2 linked regions of the Homo sapiens genome follow. The main gene of each other region encodes a partner of the protein of the gene in region 2 in a complex. Links are inferred from orthologs where the notes say so. Each region holds a gene or a part of one and is shown on either strand. Other genes may lie near its edges. The genes, in order: TLN1 and APBB1IP.

What was found.
Region 1: the proteins of APBB1IP (region 2) and TLN1 are in contact, whole or in part, in a crystal structure (PDB 4W8P), measured with the Mus musculus proteins. The link is inferred for Homo sapiens from one-to-one orthologs. Residues at the interface, in NP_062329.2 of Mus musculus: Asn5, Ile8, Asp9, Met11, Phe12, Thr14, Leu15, Glu18, Met19, Leu21, Leu22, Ser25; in NP_035732.2 of Mus musculus: Leu1492, Ala1495, Thr1496, Val1498, Ala1499, Thr1502, Ser1503, Cys1506, Asn1507, Arg1510, Val1526, Ala1529, Lys1530, Ala1533, Asn1534, Thr1536, Ala1537, Val1540, Ile1543, Lys1544, Asp1547.

The regions. Positions count from the first base shown.
Region 1 is NC_000009.12:35,722,196-35,732,964, forward strand, and holds the start of TLN1 (talin-1), read right to left. Parts: upstream 10,001-10,769; 5' UTR 9,880-10,000; intron 3,533-9,879; 5' UTR 3,500-3,532; coding exon 3,370-3,499; intron 3,127-3,369; coding exon 3,029-3,126; intron 2,765-3,028; coding exon 2,635-2,764; intron 2,530-2,634; coding exon 2,377-2,529; intron 2,140-2,376; coding exon 1,997-2,139; intron 1,885-1,996; coding exon 1,757-1,884; intron 727-1,756; coding exon 666-726; intron 29-665; coding exon 1-28. Other genes in the region: CREB3 (cyclic AMP-responsive element-binding protein 3), read left to right, coding at 10,578-10,706. UniProt on the Homo sapiens protein: High molecular weight cytoskeletal protein concentrated at regions of cell-matrix and cell-cell contacts. Involved in connections of major cytoskeletal structures to the plasma membrane.
Region 2 is NC_000010.11:26,439,186-26,449,954, reverse strand, and holds part of APBB1IP (amyloid beta A4 precursor protein-binding family B member 1-interacting protein), read right to left. Parts: intron 1-10,769. UniProt on the Homo sapiens protein: Appears to function in the signal transduction from Ras activation to actin cytoskeletal remodeling. Suppresses insulin-induced promoter activities through AP1 and SRE. Mediates Rap1-induced adhesion.

The sequences.
Region 1 (10,769 bases), on a different chromosome or scaffold from region 2:
CACTCATCTGCCCACAATTCTTGTGTGCCTGTGCATAAAATGGGGAAGAATTTAGCAAAGAGTTTCATATCACAGCTAAGGAATTAAGGTTGGATGCTAACTCTAACGAGAGAGAATTATGGGGACACTGGAAAGGTTGAGGAGTACAAGATATGAGAACGAGAGGGTAACGGGATGGAGGCTGATAAGGGCTATGCAGAAGCGATGAGTCAAGGGATACAGTCAAGGAACTTGCAGACATTCTGGAGATATGAACAGAGAGTTTGGAAGTAGAAGGGCAAAGAGAAGGCCTTCTGGGCTGAGTATTCAGAGTGGGGGTAACACCTTATAGTGGACAAAGACTATACTCTTTCACAGTAATTTCAGATTATGCTACCTCATTTGATCCTATCAGTCCTACACGGGGCAAGTACTGTTATCCCAAATCAGAGGTAAATAAAAGATTACAAGAATATTGAACTGAATTGCACAGCAAAAGCAGGGATGGAGCTGAGACTAAAAGCCCAAGCTGTCTGCTTTCTTGGCAGAGGTGAGGTGGGATAACAGCCCGGTGGGTGAAAGCCAAGTTAGGGGAGACGGGGAGGAGGCAGGGGGCCATTTAGTCAGTAAGATTAAGCAGCAAAGCTCCGCGGTCATCCCAAATACTTTCCCCTACCCACATTCACCTGGAAGATCTTACGCTCTCCCTTCTGCTTCACATACTCCTTGGGCAGGAAGTCCTTCAGGCTACACCAGAAAAGGGAGGGTCAGCATGTGGTAGACAGCATCAGGGGACATGTGGGCCATGAACTGTGGGCCTGGGGGTATGAGGAAATACCTAGGACAGTGTTATCTTTGGGGAGAAAAAAGACTCTGAGGGAATAGAGTCTAGATTATCTTCTGAAATAGAGGTGACTTCGTGTAAACTCTTCTTTTTTTTTTTTGAGATGGAGTTTCACTCTTGTTGCCCAGGCTGGAGTGCAATGGCACGATCTCAGCTCACCAAAACCTCCACCTCCCAGGTTCAAGTGATTCTCCTGCCTCAGCCTCCCGAGTAGCTGGGATTACAGGCATGTGCCACCACGCCTGGCTAATTTTGTATTTTTAGTAGAGATACATGGTTTCTCCACGTTGGTCAGGCTGGTCTCGAACTCCCGACCTCAGGTGATCTGCCCGCCCTGGCCTCCCAAAGTGCTGGGATTACAGGTGTGAGCCACCGAGCCTGGCCAGTATGAATTCTTAATGTGACCTGTGTCTCTCCCTGTAGGGAAAGGGACTGAGGAAAATTAAGTTAGAGGCTCAGTCCCTGAGGGAAAGTGGGTCTAGAGCACCATTTCAGGGAACCAAGAGGAGAAAGAGCTTTCTAGAAGGATGAACATGCACTTAGGAAGCTGAGAAAGCCACGCCAAACTCTGCATTCCAAGAAACACCAGCAGATGAGGCTTGTGAGACTTTTAACCCATGTTCCCTATAGGGAAAATTTTACCCGGTTTCCCTCTGGCTACTGCAGCAAAATTCTTCAGATAATCTCAAAAAAGAGTGACATGCTTGCTTCAGAGATGGGGGTAGGGGCAGAGATACTGAACTACATTCATATTCCAGAGGCAGAGAAGAGACAATGGATGATGGCAACTAAAAGGGTAGCTATGTTGGTCAAACCCTGGTACCTCGGAAGAAGAAATAGTGGGGGGCAGGCTTGGAATGGAGACAGGCCCACTGGGGTCACAATGGCAGGGAGTCCTGGGCCCTGACAGGGTATAGGATGTGGGTCACTCACTCAAGGAAGCCAGCCTTGTGCTTCTGCTCATTGTGGGGCCCAAACTGGATCTGGCATTGGAAGCCAGCAAACTCACAGGCCTTGTCAAAGGAGACAGGGTGGGAGCCATTCAGGATGTCATCTCGTGCCTGGAGAGCACAGGGCAAGGAGGCGAATGTTGTGTGTGGGTGCAAGGACACGCACACTGTGCTTCCGAGCCCTCCCTATTCCTGCCCCACCCCAGCCAAGTCCTCTGCATACCTGCACATACAGGAGGTTCAGCTGTACAGGGTCCCGGGAATCCACATTCTGGTCTGAGTAAAAGAACTTCCTCCGCAGCAGCAGCGTCTCGTGCTCCTCTACACCCTGCTCCCTCAGTGTCCGACCATGGTCCAGCCAGTTCACTGGGATACAGACAGTCCCCTCAGTGCCAAACCCCCATGGCCCCTGTGCTGTCTGGTCTCTGTTTATTTCTGCATTTCCTACCTCCCCTCACTTAAATGTAAGTCCCATGAGTGTAGGACTTTGTTTTCTCACTGATGTATCCCCAGGGTGTAAAACAGTGCCTGGCAGAAGCAGATGCTGAAGCCCCTTCCCACCCTTCCCATTTCAAAAGCCCTCTTTTTTCTAGTTCTGCTTACACTCATCATCTGTGTGCAATTTCTGCTTTAGTTTCTCCATCTTCTTTTCATCTCGCAGCAATGTCTTGTCCTTTCTTAAGGTCCCTGTTATTTCCTCCTTTTTCTCTTCCATCAGCTCTCGAACCAATGAATATTCATCATGATTGGTGATGCCTGAGGAAGGAGATGGCTTGTTAGCTTCCCAGGTACTGCATCCATGCCTTTTGAGAGAGTTGAGGCTTTCTGGCCCAGGCTTTCAACTGTACTAGGGCCCCTTACCAATGCGGGCACAGATGGTCATGAGCATGTCAGTGACAGTCTTAGAGTCATCCACCATGATCGTCTTCACAGTTCCATCCAGCATACGGATCTTCAGGGGTCTCTGTTTCTTCCTGTACTCCATAGTGTCCTGTTAGGGCAGGAAGAAGAGACAGGGGCCTACTCTGAGCTAGGGGTATTATTTCCTCTTTACACAGCCCGAGGGGAGAGAGTGGAGCACTGAAAGGAAGACTATGGTGGTTCGTTCAAAAGCAGGGAATTATGACTGTCTGTTAATAGGAAGAAAGCATGGGGAGGGCTAAGAGACAACAGATGTGGGTGCTGAAAACAGGAGGTGGAACAGGGAGAAGCTGATGGAAGGGGATGTGGTGGTCCTTGATGAAAGGATACTTACCCCATTTCGGAGCATGTAGTAGTCCAAAGCTTTCCCAGCCTCCAGCCATATACCCTTTTTGGGGTCATCATCTGACAGAAAGAGCCCAAAGTCGCTGGCTAAAAGAGAGGATGGATCACTTTAGGCTTATGAAGACCCCAATGTGGCTGAACAGCTTGTACCATGTTGCCCCTGACTATTTCTCCCATGACCTTGGGCCTAAAGAACGAGGGAACCATGGAACACAGACCTGAGGGGTGAGTAGTCTTAGGGGACAAAGGGGTCAACTCTCAAGGCCGAGAGCCTGGGAACAAGAAGGGACTGAAGACTCCCACTCCAGCCACCGGGGGAGTCAGACTCACGAGGACCAGCTGGGGCCTCTGGGATCCGCTCACGAATGATGCGGCAGGCGTCGTACACCATGGTAGACGGCTCAAACTGCATCGTCTTCACCACATTCCCAATGCTGATCTTCAGTGAAAGTGCAACCATGGTGGCAGCTTCTTTTCTCCAGCCTGGCTATACCTGACCCATGGCATCAGGGCATTAGAATACACTCTTCTGGTGGGAGAAGAGGCCCCCCAGATGGTGGAGTCCAAGGGAAGAGTGTTTTTGAAAGGGACTCACCAAAGTAGATGGTAATAAGGTTGTTTTCATTGTATTTAATAATTTTAAAGAGTGAAAAATTATTTACATCAAAAGAATGAGTCCTGACAATTTTTTTTTTTGAGACAGAGTTTCGTTCTGTTGCCCAGGCTAGAGTACAGTGGTGCGATCTCAGCTCGCTGCAAGCTCCGCCTCCTGGATTCACGCCATTCTCCTGTCTCAGCCTCCCCAGTAGCTGGGACTACAGGCGCCCGCTGCCATGCCTGGCTAATTTTTTGTATTTTTAGTAGAGACGGGGTTTCACCATGTTAGCCAGGATGGTCTCGATCTCCTGACCTCGTGATCCACCTTGGCCTCCCCAAGTGCTGGGATTACAGGCGTGAGCCACCACGCCCGGCCAAGTCCTAACAATTTAAGACATCTGAGGGAAAGGAGAAGCTGGTCTGCAAGGTACAATAGCAGGTCTGAAATGCAGTGCTACCTGAGGACACTGCCCTGCCCCACCACTGGAATTTGTACCTCCCTACTTTCATCCAAGTATCTCTCTTGCCCCTTGTCCCTGATCACCTTTCTCAGCCCTACTCCTGCCTTCTTTTCATTTTTGCCTGGTTCAGTATTTTTCTCTCTTTGTCTCCTGCTGTGTCCTGCTGGCTCTTCCCTGTCCGGGATTTTCAGAGCTCTCTTCTCACCACGTGACCTTCCTTCTCATGGCTTTAGCTGCCTTCTCTGCAAAATGAAGATGTTATAATTCCCTAAGGCTCTTGAAGCCTGCAAACAAACTCTAGCTAGCCTGGCAGGGAGACCAAATACTGGTTGCTCAAGCCATTCAGGGGTCCGCTCTTGCCCCAGCTTTTTTCTAACCTGAGATGCGGGGGCCTTCTGAAGGAGCCTAGCCCTGTACTGGGCTTCCCAGGCAGTCAAGCTAGAAATGTGATTCTCTAACTCAAAGGGATCTATCTCAGAAGTTATCTGGTCAACTCTTGTGTTTTGGAGAAGGGGAAATAGACTCTGGGAGGCCAGGAAACATTTTCAAGACAGGCCAGAGAAAGGACCCAGTCCCTGTAACTCAGTCCTTGCTTGTTCCAAGTCATCAAGTTAATACTCAGTCCTGCAACTCCTCCCATGCTTTCTCCTCTTCAGCAAGTCTGTCTCGAATTCTGCTCTGTCTCACCCACTTCCCCTGACTGTATTTTCAGTGCAGCTCAGAATACTAGTCCTACCCCACCTTCTTCCACCCTCCTGGCACCCCCTCTCAGCAGGCTAGAGGAGGCACTGGAGGCAGCAGGTGGCGCACAGGCTGCAAGAGGACAAGTCTGCCCGGCTGCTGCTGATGTGCCCCTGCTTGGTACAGGGATTGGGTGCCTCTTAACTAAGAGAATGGGCAAATACAAGCTGCCCATTCCCCTCCTGGCAAACTACAAGCCTCAAATGGGGAAAAGCAGGGTGAGAGGGGAAGGCTGGAAAGCAGAGATGGGGGTGTTAGGATACAGAAGGCATTTGAAAGCCAGGGAAGTTAAGAAGGGGTAGAGGGTAAAGAAGTTAGGAGAGATGGGATGAGGAGAATTGAAAATCTAAGTAGAAACAAGAGACAGGAGGCAGGTATGAAAATGGTCTAGATCAGCGGTCTGGTACCAAGTGGCAGATAGACCATTTCTGACCTTACAAGCAGTCCAGAGTCTCAAAAGAGAAGAACCACAGCTCTCTGTCTTTACTCCCCAATAAGAGAGGACCCTCCCAGTCTCCCCAGTTCCAGCTCTCTGCCCCCTCCCCACTCCTGGGGCACTTTGCCCAACCTTATTACTATCCGCTTGTGTCCCAGCTGGACAGACCTGGCTATGGGGTTGCTGACCATGAAAGAATGAGGGCTGGGCTGGTGGATCCGAGAAGCTGGAGGAGTCTGTGGAGCCAAGAAGCAGGACTGAAAGGACCCTTCACACTAAGCTGAAACTGCATGTCTCCCCCCATTTCCTCTGGACACTTAGACACCCCCTTCCTCCTCAAGCACGGAAGCCTCTGGTGAGACCCCGATAAGGGAGCTGAGTCATGCCTACCCTTACTCCCCAGCTGGTCCAGAGTGGATATTCACACAGCTACAAGAGGGTGTGTGGACGCGAAGAACTGATCAGTGAATTGTGGGTGGTGGTGGCAAAGAACAAGGCTGCTACAAGTATGAGTAGAAGCTAGCTCATTCCTCCTTTGGCCTGAGAACTTTGCTCCCTTTTCCATTGTGTTTGATGGAACAGCAACTCCCCACTGCCGTGTCCCCCTCCCAGGGAACTCCTCCTCCCTCAATACATTCCTGCGATGCATTCCAAAGAAGTTGGGCAATTGGAGGGGGGGAATGGAGGACAGGAGGTCAAATCCCAGCAAGGAATGGAATGTAAGAGTATTGGAGCTAAGAAAGTTGGGGTACTTGGAGAATATAGTCAGAGCAGATACCCACAAGGGGAATTGCAGAAAGATAGGGAGTTACAGACAGGAACAAAAGGAAAGAGCTTAAGACAGTCAGAATATAAGAGGGATGGGGGAGTAACACTCAGTCTGTTACCAAATTTGGCCTCTGAGTCCGCAACCGCTGGCAGTGGGGGAGGGCTGTGGGTGAGACTGACATATCCGGCCTCAGGCTGCTGGAGACTCATTTAGAGCTGGACTGGGCAGCTAGCTGAAGGGCTGCACAGAACTTCCCCCGGTACAGCCCCTCCATACTCAAATGCACACTCATTCTCCCCAGATGCACCCCAGCCTAGGCAGAGCTCTTTCCCACAAAGCTACCTTACTCTCTCTATACACACATTATCTCAATCACACAGCCCCCACACAGATCCCATCACGACTGCATTATCTTCTCCTAGGGAGCCCATCCTATGCACACAGCTTTTGCACAGATAACCTCCATAACAAGCACACCCGGCACCCAGTGTCTCTCCTCCCATTATGTAGACATTCTCCATTCACCCAGCAAGCATTCCTTGAGGGCCAGCTGTGGGGAAGACCCTGGGCCAAACTTTCAGTGGCTGGGGACCAAGATCAGTAAGACCTAGCCTTTGAGTTCAAAGGGCTCCCAGTCCACGAGATGAGTGAATAAGCCAAGTACAGAATCACAACGGAGGGCAGGATGTGGTAAGAGCCAAAAGGTGTGTGCTCAGAGAGATCCCTTTAGGTCAGGGAAGGGGAACCAAAAAGTCTCCATGATAAGTATCATTTGAAGCTAGAATTTTAAAAAATAGAGATAATAAAAAACAATAGTGATCTGCCATTTATTGACTATGTCACTTGCATTGTATACATAATTTCATTTAATCCTTACAGTAGGTGTCATTATTTCCATTTTTACAGATCAGAAAACAGACTCAAAGATGTTAAATACTTGTTCAAATACTTCTCCAAATAATAAGTTGTGAAGCCAGGATCCGAACCCAGGTTTCTGACTGCAAAGCCCAAGCTTTCTCCACTACGCCAGCCAGCTGGAGATGTGTCAGGGGTAGTTTTCACTCCAGGCAGAGAAATAGCATAAGCAAAGATGGAGAAGCAGTAAATCGTGGAGGAGCATTCAGGGAAGTGAGCAGGCAGGCTGTTGAAGCACAGGGGTACCTGCAAGGGAGCAGTGGTGGGGAAGTCAGGGTTAGGATGGAAAGGCAGAGGAAGACTGGAGAGGGGTATGAGGAATTTTACTTATTGGAGGACAAAAGGAAGCCAAGGGAGTCTTTGAGCAGAGAAGAGACATAACCGGAACTGGATTTTAGAAAAATAACTCTGGCAGTTACCTTGGAGATTAGTTAGAAGGACACTGTATTAGTACAAATTAAAGGTAATGAAGCCGGAGTTGGAATGGCATTGAGGAAGATGTCACTCAGAACAAGTTTGGGGAGGTAGAAATGACAGGACCTAATAACTACTAAGGTAGACAGGTTAGAGTCCCACAGCTTCCTATCATCAGCAGCCACTTTAGCGGCTGGGGCAGCTTGAGTTTAGGCGACGAATTGGGAAGAGGGGAAAGGATCAGGTTGGGCAGAGAATGTGAGGATGAGGCTGTGGTTACGGGATGTGGTTAGGCTGTGGGGAAAAAGGGTATGAGTATATGATTAGTAGCCACTAGGGGCAGATGGGGTTGGGTTAGTGACTGCATCAGGCTGGGAATGGGGAAGACAGGGTGTAGAAAAAGGATGAGAAGACAGGGTGTAGAAAAAGAATGCTGGTGATGATGGTGTTTGGAAAAATACATATACATAAGATACATATATGACCAGTCACTGCATCAGGTTGGGGGAAGGGGAATGATTACATGGATGGTGGCTAAGTCAGGGAATGATGGGGTGAGGTCAGAGGCCAGGTCAGGCTATAGGAGGTTGAGAAGAGCTGGGCCTGTGGTCAGTCACTAAATCAGACTGGGGTGGGGGTGGGAAAGTGAAGGGACATTGGCAATGTCTAAGTAAAGCTGGAGCTGGGATGGGGGATGGGGTACAGCCAGTGGCTGGGTCAGGCTGAGTAGAGGATAGTGCTGTGGTCAGTGGCAGGGTCAGGCTGGGAGTGAAGTGGGGGTGTGGTCAGTGGCCTGGCTGGGCGTGGGATCAGCAAGACCCAGTTTCCTCTTTGGGTCTCGTTTCCTCTTTTCTGTTGGGGAGTGGGGGAAGGGGATCTACAAATGGTCCAAGAAATTAAAAGAGGCTTAGATCCAGGGGGTGACACACAGCAGGGGATGGGAGTAGGGTATTCAGCAGATGACCAGGTGGAATGTAGGTACATGACTGGGTGAAAATGGTAGGAGAGTAATTTAAAATGATGGGAAAGCTCAGGTTTTGATGAGGGTAAATTCAGGTAGGATGTGCGGATTAAAGGTTGGTGAGGGAGGTAGAACTAAGGATGGGAACGGATGATAAGATGAGCATGGGAGAGTTAAAGGCAAGGGAAGTATTTTGTAAGGGGATAGGCAGGATGGGTGTGAAATGCAGAGTCAGGGATGAGAGTTGGAGAGGAGGGCTTAATACCAAGAGAACAAGTGAAGTGGGAGAAGCAGGGCTAAACTTTCAGGGGATTCAGTTATTCCCTTCTCCCATGGCAACAGTGATTCCTTGGTTAGCTTCCCCCATAGTCATCAGCTCCTTCTTCCCTAGGCAGTCCCCAACTTGTGACTAGGCCTTGTACATCCTGGGTCCCTATTTCCCACCTATGTTGTCTGTAAACAACACAGTCCAGAATCTCTGTCCCCTAACTGTGGTGGCCACAGCAAGGGCCTTGGGCTTAGAGAATGGAATAAAGAAGCTGGAATCCCAGATGCCTGCAATTCTAGCTAAAGCCAGAACGCTAGCCTGAAATTAGTTTATCTCTCTGGGTAAAAAGAAGCCCCTGTAACTACATAGGAATAAAGGATTTCCCTACAAAAGAAGGGCATTTACCTACTGCCAACCTCTTAAATTTTATCTGCTCAAGGTCAACTATGCTAGCCTCAAACCACAACCCCTAAAGCTGCCCCAAATTCCTAACATTAACCCCACCTCTAATTTGTTTCCTGATTCCCAGTACCGGCTTGGACATTCATCCCTTTCCTAGCACAGACTCATATCCAATCCCTGATCCCTGAAACTGATCTAAGTTTTGCCTTTAGCACCAAATCCCCTGATGTTAACCCTAAATGTTGACCCCTAAGCCTAAAGTTCATTTATAATTTGATTCCTAACTCACGCTTTCACTGTTTATCCTTAACACCGACCATGCCAACATTCTTTAATCCCTCAAACAAGCTCTAACCTGATTCCTGTTGTTTGTTGACCCTTAACCTGACCCTGAACTCAAATTATGACGTATGATGGCCATCCCAGCAAACAAGATAATGACCGTAATCTAAACCTTACCTATCTAAAACGGACCTGACTCACACTAACTCTTAAGTTTTAACCCCAGCTTTTAACTCCTATAGCGACCCTTGATTCCTAAACGGACCCCACCTAATCCCCAACTCACCCAAAGCTTTCCTACCCACATGCCCGCTATCAGCTAACACCAAAGCCCGTCCCCGCCCTGCGCCCCGCTGCCACCCGACTCCTCACGCTCCCCAAAGCCTATCCCAGACATAGGACTGCTCCCAGGAAAGGCCTGTCTTCCCCAAGACGGCCTACTTCACGCCGAGCTCAAGCCGAGATGCGCTGGACGCTGACCTCTCCAACTAATAGGACCCGAACCGGACACGCAAGAGAGGCAGGGCCCGCCCGCCCCGGGGCCAGGCCCCGCGGCCCCACCCTAAGGCCCCCGCCCGGCCCGGTCTGGCCTACCTGCGCTGCCTGGCTCTGCGCCCCGCCCGCCGGCCCGCCGCCCCGCCGCTTCTCGGGTCGCCCTCGGGCTCCGGCCTCGCCCTCCCTTCGACACTCTCTCGGCCACTTCCGTCCTGGGAACGTCCCCCACCCGCGGGCGGCGCCCTGGGCCCGCGCTCTATGGTCGCGGGGGGCAGGCAGGAAGCTGCTCTGGCCCCGTTCTCGATGCTCGGGAGCCGCCAAAGCCCGGCAGCCCCTCCCTGGCAGGAAGCGAGGGTGCGGCGCAATCCGGAGAGGACGCCAGGACGACGCCCGAGTTCCCTTTCAGGCTAGAACTCTTCCTTTTTCTAGCTTGGGGTAGAAGGCGGAGCCGGAGCCCCGGAACCCCCGCCCTCGGGGTGCGAGGCGGCAGCAGGGCCGTCCCCTACATTTGCATAGCCCCTGGGACGTGGCGCTGCACCCAAGCCTCTTCTCAGTTGGAGGGAACTCCAAGTCCCACAGTGCCACGGGGTGGGGTGCGTCACTTTCGCTGCGTTGGAGGCTGAGGAGAATTGAGCCTGGGAGGCGGGTCCGGAGAGGGCTATGGAAAGCCGCCGGCGGGGAATCCCGGCCGTAGAGGGACAGTGGATAGGTGCCCGAGGCCTACAGCTGGCCTGGGGCTCGTGTCTGGGCTTCGGACGTTGGGGCCCGGTGGCCCACCCTTTCCGTAGTTGTCCCAAATGGAGCTGGAATTGGATGCTGGTGACCAAGACCTGCTGGCCTTCCTGCTAGAGGAAAGTGGAGATTTGGGGACGGCACCCGATGAGGCCGTGAGGGCCCCACTGGACTGGGCGCTGCCGCTTTCTGAGGTAGGTTGGGGTTCTGACTGGGGAAAGCGTGGGATGTCCATGAAGTCAGGTGATGGTGATAAG
Region 2 (10,769 bases):
GGCTCTCTGCAGCTCGACTTCCTGGGCTCAATTAATCCTCCTGCTTCAGCCTCCCAAGTAGCTGAGACCACAGGAGAATGCCACCATGTCTGGCTTTTTCATTTTTTTGTAGAGACAGGGTCTCATTGTATTGCCCAAGCTGGTCTCCAACTCATGGGATCAAGGGATCCTCCTGCCTCAGCCTCCCAAAGAGTTGCGTTTACAGGCATAAACCACAGTGCCTGGACTTCAAGCACCTTTGAGTGGGTTCTGATGAGAAAATTTGACAACTATATTGGAGAATATGGAATCACATTGGCAGTAATGATTTGATACCTGGAACACTTTTAGTCAATCAAGATGATATCCCCTTGAAACAAATGCCAATACTTCTATTCAACTGGAATTTAGAAAGAAACTAAAGGCTCACACAGACACACACACAAAACAAAACAACAGTTCCTGCTTCATAGGGATGAGGTAGTTAGTGCTTGTAATGTACTCATTATAATGCCTGGTGCATATGAAGTGCTTAATATCAGCTATTATTTCTATCATCCTCATCATCATCATCATTTTTATTATTGTGTTTTCCCTCTAAAACCAGCAGTGGAAAAAAAAAGTGTCAGTCATTTATTCTCTCTCTCTTTCACACACACACAGATATACACACACAAACATAAACACACACCCAAGTCCACAAGGGGATGGTTACTTCTGTCTGTTGCATCTTCATGCACCTGGAGACTGAGTTAAACTGCCATTTTTCTTTGTAGGTCAGGCACGCTTTTAAAAGACTAAGCCACTGGAAGGACATCTGTAAGTATAGTTTCTAGAACAGGGATCCGTAACCATTCTTAACAAGGAAAGAACTGCACTGGAATCTCCTTGAGTCTTTTTTGAGTCATATCCTACGCATCTCCAACCCATTTTCCAAATCTTAGCACTACTGCCCTCCCCTGAAAGACAGGCGTATTTTTGGAGCTGAGAACCGCCACAAAGAGAGTGGCTGTCGATGAGAGTGTTATGCTTGTGAACTAGCAGGTGGAAGCAAAAAAAAGAAAACAGAAGAGTTGACCACCATGGTTGCCTAGGGCAACAGATCACATTTTGCCGGATGTGGGTTGAGGGCATCCTGCTTCGCCATTTGTTTCCAGTTCTTTTTCAGTCCTTCTTACTTTTAGGCAGAATCCATAATATATAAGGTGGTGGGGAGTTGGGGGAGAAAGAGGATAAAAAGGAAAGCAAGCAAATGACTATCTGAGGTTGTTTTGTTACTAGAGGGCAAATAATGCATTCTGGGTGTAGGTTTAAAGATGAATTAAAATCAGATTGTAGGGACAGGCCCCAAAGTAATTGCAAATGCTGTTTACTTCCTTTACCCTAAAAAATTCTGAATACTTTAGAATTCACCTAATATCCTCCTTTCAGTTGCATAGTCAACACATAGTATAGGATGCAATATTTGTGAATTTATCTCAATCTGCACTGCCCAATTCAGCCACTAGCCACATGAGGCCATTTAGCACTTTAACTGTGGCTAGTCTGAAATGAGATGTGCAGTAAGTGTGAAAACACACTGGATTTGCAAGACTTAGTATTAAAAAATGGAATAAAATAGCTCATTAATAATTTTACTATTACTGGCAGGATGCCTATAATCCCAGTGCTTTGGGAGGCTGAAGTGGGAAGATCACTTGAGGCCAGAAATGTGAGACCAGCCTGGGCAACATGGTGAGACCCTCATCTCTACAAAAATTAAAAAAATGAAATAATCTTACTATTACTTAAATGTAACATAATTTCAATTATATCAAAATTAATATATTATTTTTAAAATTTTTAGTAAAAATTTATGTCACTTGATTTTTACTGTTAAATATAATTTCAAACATTAAATTTAATATAACTTCAAACAATTCACATTTTAATAGTTTATTTTATTAAATGAAATATCCAAAAATAATCATTTGATCCAGAGTGCTATTATCATTTTTGGATATATCATTTAATAAAATAAGTGATTAAAATTAACATCACAGTTGGGCACAGTGGCTTACACCTATAATCCCGGCACTTTGGGAGGCCGAGGTGGAAGGATTGCTTGAGCCCAAGAGTTCAAGACCAGCCAGGGCAATATAGTGCCTCGTTTCTCAAAAAAATAAAAAAATGGGATGGGAGTGGCTGTGATCATGCCACTGCACTCTTGCTTGGGTGACAGAGTGAGGCCCTCCCTCAAAAAAAAGAAAAGTCATGGTTCTTTTTACTGTTTCTAATGTGGCACCAAGGAAATTTAAAGTTAAACATGTAATTTGCTTTGTAGTTCTACTGGACAGCTCTGCTCCAGAGTGCTACAGTTCTGTTATTGCAAGCGCCTCAGTATTTGACTCAAATATGTTGGGTTGCAGGGACCACATCACATTAATGTAATCTGAATATTACTCATTCTATGTTACATTAGATTCTCCCCATTTCCTTTCCCACTGCATTTTATGCTTCAGCACTGCTAAAGTGTTTTACACATCTGGTGCCTGGCGTATCTTTCTTCCATTTGGCCACAAGGTATAGAAAGGCATTTCTTTTTTTTTTTTTTTTTTTTTTGAGACGGAGTCTCACTCTGTCACCCAGGCTGGAGTGCAGTGGCGCGATCTCGGCTCACTGCAAACTCCGCTTCCTGGGTTCATGCCACTCTCCTGCCTCAGCCTCCCGAGTAGCTGGGACTACAGGCACCCACCACCATGCCTGGCTAATTTTTTGTACTTTTTTAGTAGAGATGGGGTTTCACTGTATTAGCCAGGATGGTCTCGATCTCCTGACCTCGTGATCTGCCCTCCTCAGCCTCCCAAAGTGCTGGGATTACAGGCATGAGCCACCACACCCCTCCTAGAAAGGCATTTCTATACCTTTCTCCTTCAAAGCACCTCTTGATCATCCCCCCATAATATCTGTCCTATAATCATTATCTGCACCATATTATTTCTGTATCAAACATTGCACATTCTGCACTGTAATGTATTTTTTTTACATGCCTGTCTTTCCCACTAGACTGGAAGCTTCTTGAGGGTAGGGACCATATCTATCTATTTCTATCTATCTCTCTCTCTATCTATCTATCTATCTACAGGTTTTGCTCTGTCACCCAAGCTGGAGTGCAGTGGCGTGATCATAGTTCACTGCAGCCTCAAGCAGTCCTCCTATCTCAGCCTCCCACGTAGCTGGGACTATAGGTGTGACCCACCATGCTGGGCAGGGGACCATATCTTATCCTATTTTAGCTACACGTGCCCCCTACACTGGCATGGGGTTGGCCATCAATAGACGTGTGGTGAAACTGGAAAAAAAGTTCCAATTATATTACATTGAGCAGAGTCTGATTCAGCTGAAGTGTGTGTTTCAGTACTGTAGCCCAATCTGTAAACCCAGCCTTGAGGAACAGTGAGTACTGTTCATTTTAGCTTGGGCATTCTGCAGTGGTCTCACGGCCGGCCATCTTTTCACCACACTGCATAGCACTTACCGACATTCATGGCCCAAGCAGCTTCATTTCTGTGTGTTGCTTACAACAAGGGAAATATAATGCCACAGAATGAGTAAACACATGAAGAAATAGTCTTGGTTTGCTAAGCCATACCGTTTATGAAATTTAATCAGAAGGAAGCCATTATCTTAAAAGGAAAACAATACTGTATCCAAAACCTAATGAGTTCATTGCCCTAACTGTCACCTGTGAATGTTATGTGATCAACAGAGATGCATGAATTTGTTAATGCTATAAAAACAGTGGCCATAGGTAAATTTACTTAATCAGTAACCTAATTGTGATAATACACTATAATATGATGTGAAATCACCTGAAAAAGATTTTGTGGGATTCCCCGCTTCTGCCCCACATAACTAATTTGTTCTTTTCTTTCTGAGGTGAAATCCTACAAACACACTTGAAAGACTGAACTTCTGCCCCGTGGAAAACACAGTTCTACTAGGTGGTAATGAATACCTTTTAGCAGCATTCTACTGAATATTACTATTTCGTTATTACCCTGGCTTGATAGCAGTTAATAACTAAGACAAATGAAATGTCACTTATCTCGATCACTGTTAGTAATTACTTCTTAACCACTTTCAGCTCTCCAAATATCTTAACAGTGTTGTCCAGCATTCTTCAACAGCTCCTAGAGAATTTTTAGCCCTGCTCTAACACTTGAATCCATTTGAAATCCAGTTGTGTAAGGGGCAAACATTCCTATCTTCCAAATCTGGTTTGGATTTTGAAATTCTAAACATTTGAAACCTCCGGGCACAAAAAACTTCTTTGTGGGAAAGGTCTCTGTCCTAACTTCCGCAGAATCTTGTTTTTAAACTGCACAGTCTTGGAAGCCTTGTATTGCATAAAGTCTACATCATGGGTTAAGAATTTACGTGGCCAGGCATAGTGGCCTATGCCTGTAATCCCAGCCCAGCCCTTTAGGAGGCCGAAGCGGGAGGATACTTGAGCCCAGGAGTTTGAGACCAGCCTGGGCAACACAGCAAGACCCTATCTCTATTAAGAACAATTAAAAAAAGAATTTATGGATGGGGCTTTTAAGTATTCATTTCTTGCTTTCCACTTCTCAAAAATAATTTCCATTGTTTTGATTATTATGGAGGTAGAAAATTGCTGATTAGCTAACTATATTCTTATTTTAGCTACCTAATAAAGATTTTGGATCAACTCCTTCTCAAAGTTTTGAAAGTTTAATTAAAGGTTTTAGGATTGCAAAGACTTTGTTTTATGTCCCCTTTTCTTTCTTTCTTTCTTTCTTTCTTTCTTTCTTTCTTTCTTTCTTTCTTTCTTTCTTTCTTTCTTTTCTTTCTTTCTTTCTTTTCCTCTTTTTTTTTTTTGACAGAATCTCACTCTGTCACCAGGCTGGAGTGCAGTGGCATGATCTTGGCTCACTGAAATCTCCACCTCCTGGGTTCAAGCGATTCTCCTGCCTCAGCCTCCCGAATAGCTGGGACTACAGGCGTGCACCACCATGCCCAGCTAATTTTTGTATTTTTAGCAGAGACAGGGTTTCACCATGTTGGCCAGGATGGTCTTGATCTCTTGACCTCATGATCCACCCATCTCAGCCTCCCAAAGTGTTTGGGATTACAGGCGTGAGCCACCACGCAGCCTATGTCCCATTTCTTAAACTGTGTAGCCTTGGGCAAATTTCCTAAACTCCCTTACCTGTCATTTCTAATTTGCAAAATAGGAGCAATAACAGTATCTTCCCAAATGGTTACCCTGCTTTTAGCCTTATATATAATAAGCACATCAGTATTCCCAAATGATACTTCATATCTACATCCAAAATTGAACTTCTAATCATCTCCCTTCCAACTTGCTGACTTTAGTTGATGACAATTTCATCCTTCCAGTTGTTTAGGCCACAGACTTTGAAGTCATCCTTGACTCCTCTTTCTCAAACACCCCACATTCCTTCTGTCGGGAAATCTTGGCTCTCCTTCAAAATATACGCAGAATCCAACGCTTTGTCATGGGTTCCTTGCTTTCACCTCTGCTCCCCCAGGTTTATTCTCAAGCAGTCAGAGTGAGCCTTAAGTCAGATCATGTTATTCGCCTTCTCAGAATCCTGCAATGGCCCCTCCATTTTGCTCGGTGTGAAAGTCAAAGTTTTATAATGGCCTCTGGAACCCCACGTGATCTGCTATCTCCTCGCCCTTCTCATACTTCTCCAACCACATCTGTTTCTCTCTCCCTTGCTCATTTACCTCTAACTACAGGGGCCTTCTTGTTGCTTCTCAAATCCACAGACATGCCCCTGCCCTACAGCCTCGACTGTTCCCTGTGCTTGGAACACTGTTCCCCCAGATAGCCACTTGGTTAACTCCATTGTCTCCTGCAAACGAAAGGGCCCAGCCTGACCACCTTATCGCATATTGCAACTTCACCTTGCTTTTCGCTTACTAATACCTATATTATTTACTTATTTATTATGCTTATTGAGTAGCATCTGTATCTGTCCACCAGAATAAACTCCACAAATGCAGGGATCTTTGTCTCTTTTGTTCACTGACATTCCTTGCGTCTATAATAGTGCTTAGCAAACATTTTTGACTGAAAATGATTGAATTGTATTTAAACTGGAGATCTGGCCGGGCACAGTGGCTCATGTCTGTGATCCCAAGACTTTGAGAGCCCGAGGTGGAAGGATCACTTGAGCCCAGGAGGTCGAGACCAGCCTGGGCAACAAAATGAGACCCTGTCTCTACAAAATTTTTTTTTTAATTAGCTGGGCATGGTGACGCACACCTGTGATCCCAGCTACATGAGAGGCTGAGGCAGGAGGATTGCTTGAGCCCAGGAGGTTGAGGCTACAGTGAGCCTTAATTGTGCTGCTGCACTCCAGCCTGCACCCTGTCTCAAAAATGAATGAATGAATGAATAAATAAATAAAGTGGAGATGACTTCCTAAGTTACATATTCTTTTTTTCTTTTGCCTCCTTTATTTATTTTCCTCATATAAGTAATTTTTTTTTTTTGAGATGGAGTTTCGCTCTTGAAACTTTTTTTTTTGAGATAGAGTTGCCCAAGCTGGAGTGCAATGGCATGATTTTGGCTCACTGCAACCTCCACCTCCTGGGTTCAAGCGATTCTCCTGCCTCAGCCTCCCGAGTGGCTGGGATTACAGGCATGCACCACCATGCCAGGCTAATTTTTTTGTATTTTTAGTAAAGACAGTGTTTCACCATGTTGGTCAGGCTGGTCTTGAACTCCTGACCTCAAGTGATCCTCCTGCCTCAGCCTCCCAAAGTGCTGGGGTTACCAGTGTGAGCCACCACGCCCGGCCACATATTCTTTATTCCACTTAAAACTCATAGTTCTTTACTGATGATTCTTGGTCACTTTATCAATGTCTAAGATAGCACAATTTCCGTGGTACTTACTATTAACTATTTCTAATACATGTTGTTTTTATGCTATTCAATTAAAGTAAGCTGTCTTTACTGAACAGCACAAGCTGCTTGTGACCACCCAGAGTCGGTGGAGAACCTGACTCCAGTCTGCCATGCCAGTGTTCTTTGATCCCCAGTTTGACACCATCCTTTACAAATGTATGTACATGCTTCCTAAAAGCTTTTTAAAAATTAGCACATTCAGAATAATGATTACCTCTAGCTGGGAAATGGGGAAATGTTATTGGAAGGAGACCAGGAAATGTCTTGGTAAATATTCTACTTCTTAAGCTGGGTGATAGGTACCCAGATGTTGGCTTTATTATTATTTGTTGTTATTTACATATATACATCATCTTTTGTAGATATGAAACATTTCATAATAAAACATGAAGGAAGAAATGAATCTAGTCATGATTCACTTGCTCTAATATCATTTTTTGTTTCTCTCCAGTTTGATGTGATGTAGCTCTCTGGATGCAAACCCTCCAGTCGGTTTGGGGAAACACAGTTGCTGTGTGATTTAGCTTTTATCCCCCATCCCAGCCCACAACCATCTCACTGATGAGTCTGTAACATGAAACTAAATCAAAAAGATCCCCAACAGAATTAGAAAAAATATTAAACTCACTGCTTGCTTGTTGATTTAATCAACCTAGCCGGCTGTCATGTGGGATTAGAATAAAATAAACACAAAAATGAAAACACACGATTGCTAACAAAGCAGATTCTTTTTTCAAGGCACACGTAAAGATAATAACTTCAAAGTTGATTATATTAACTTGTCTTCCCATGATAACACGATAAGTTCTTTGCTTGGTTTCCTTCTATTCAACCTTCTCCCGTGACCCTGGTTGGGGAGACCAGGGACCCTGATATGTAGTCCCACAGCACTCAACTCTGGTTCCGCATGGAATTCTACATCTCCTCTTACATCTAGTTACATCTCCTCTTCTAGACTATAAACTCATTGTGGAAAGGCCCCAGGTTTTTTCATGGGTGCCACCATCAGATGGCCCAGTTCAAACAACAGCTCTGTTTCTTACTTCCTGCGTAAGTTTCTTACCCTCTCTGTGCTTTCATCTTGATGTGATGATTAACAAGATGACACATCTAAATTAGTACAGGGCCTGGTAGTATTTATAAGTAAACATTATAATAATTATTATTTGCTATTACTATGTGATGATCAAAGAGAAAACTGAGTTGACAGAGAAGAAAGAAAATAGCTCTTATGATTCTTAATTATTCAAGTTCATGGTCAACGCTCAGGAAATGTTTTAAAACTGAGTCACGGAATCAAGCTCCAGAATATGTGGAATAATGAGAACGTGTGATGCCTTGGAGTGGTGTCACCTCTCTGCTTGCTCATGCCTGAGGTTTGGGACCAGTGGAGCCAACGGGATCTCAGGGGCTTGTGATATTTCCATGGTACCACTCAGTGAGATTAATATATTCTGCACATTTAGCCAGCCTCTTTGGAGTCCTCATTTTGGGATCACAAATTGGCTAGGAAATGATGATGCAGTGGTGGCAGGTCACATCCTCTAGTCCCCCAAAAGCTGTCCTCAGGGTCTGCCCTTCCAAGCTGCAGGTACAATCTAGTCTCTTTAACTGGGTATAGGTGTAATGGCATTCCTTCATGCGGCTAGTTCTCTCTTTTCAAGAGAAATCTAATGATTACTGTTCCAGATATCTAGCAGTTTTCTCTAAAAGTCATGTTTCTCACGATAATTAAAAGTGTAATATGTATTTTAAAATCCCCATGCAACCAGTGTAGAAATCTTACACTTTAAAATCTGGCATTTATTATGTACATGAATTTATAATAAATGCTTAAGCTTTAAGTGACTTGCCTCTTAGATGACAGCAGTGACATAAAACACACACATTCATTTTCATACTGAGAAGATACCTGTTGTGTTAATAAAAATTGTTCTGTTTTGAGGCAAGCATTCCTAAGATCACCGTAGTCTCCATAATATAAACTCATGGGGTCCTATAAAATTGTAAAGATTGTGGTCCAATAGGCTATGGAACGCAGACAATTTATTATAAGATTTGTGGACTCACTAAAATGTTTTAGGCATAAAAATAATTAAAATAAAATTGAAGAGAATTAGAAGAAAATGAAAATAATAATGCTCTTTGGAAGTAAGATGGCTTAAAGAAAATTCAAAGTGACATATCAAACAGACATTTATGGCAATGAACTTTATAAGTAGCTCATTCTAATAATAATATGGAACTATTTAAAACTTTGATTGATGAGTGAAAAAAGGCAAATCAATAGTGGATAACTGGTGAACATTCTTAGGATATAAAAATACAAAAAATGTAATAAATACTATAAAACCTAGTATTGTGTTTAAGATTTAAAGTAATGCCATAAAGTAATTCATATTACAAAGTTATATTTCTTGAGAAATAGCAATTTAAAGATTTCAAAATATAATATTGACCTGTTCAAGTTTGGGCTGTTTCTTATCTCAGTTTTCAAATAAGATGGAAATTTGCCTTTTTACATATAGGCCAGATATTGACTGCGCTTTTACAGGAACTTCTCAGAAACAAAAGACCTCAAAGATATTGATATTTCAGAATGTAATCTGTTATGGTTATGATTATTTTCTCCATTTTTAAAAAATTTGTGATCAGCAATTCTAATGTTGATATAATGTTGCCAGTATTCCAGTTGGGACCAATTCAAAGAATTATAGCAACTCCTCAATTGCTATTTTAAGAACAGACATAATGTAGCCCAATCATCTCACTTTACTGACGTTATCTGAAGTCCAGGGAGAAGTTATGCAAGTTAATCAATATCATCCTTATCTAGATGGGGGAGATATAAGAGCCAGAACCCAGGTCTCCCAAGTGCTGAGAAAAAACCCAAATATTAGTAATTATTAATAGTTTAAGGATTAATAGTTTAAGGACACACATTATTAATAGTTTAAGGATGAAGTTAAATTTCTTAGACCTTTCACAACACACGTTGAGCAGACAGGAAATACCACTAGAAGACTTTATAAAGTATTTCTCAGCAGATCCTTGCTAATTTCGCCAGCCAGCATCATCGTCCTGGCCCATGTGCCACCCATTATTCCAGTGAGGCCAGAGGGAAAATCGCTGCTCTAGGTTTATGAAAAAGGACAAAGTTTTCCTTTCTGAAATTTCTCTCTGGAGACCCAGATTTTAAAATGAATAGTAGCTAGTACCGGCACCTTTGTTTAAACCACGTTATGCCACCAGAAAAAAACATCTGGGGGCATAATAAACTCACGGGCCCTTTTCTTTTGTTACTTTCCTCTAGTACTCCGTCTCGTCAAGGATCACATTAAAAGTTCTTTTGAACCGCTATGCCCTGAGTGTCTAGGAAACACATTTCACGTTCCACAGGGGTATGAACTAAGAAATACCTTAGCAGGAAAGTAAGAGGTACACCGGGCTAGGTCTTTGGTGGAACACCTGCGCAGAGGTTCTTGGAGACATTAGGACACCCTAGTTAGTTTCCTCCATTCTGTAAAAGGCCCTCTGGATATTCATTTCAAGCCAAATTATGAAACTTGTGCCTGGTGTCCAAATCTATCTTTATGGTATTTTAAAATGAAAATGAGAATATTCGGGGGAAAAAGTTATTTTTAAAAAGAGGAAAGAGTTGTCCAAAAGTTTTAGAGGAAGGAAACACTCTAAGATGCATCAGACTGCGAGCCACACTCAAATTCTCACACGGCTGGCATTTAATCCACATCTAATCTTGGCCCCTCAAGAATCCCTCCAGGTTCCGGGAGACTGGGGCTCCCGGACCTGCTGACCTGCTGACCTGCTGACCTGCTGGACGTGCA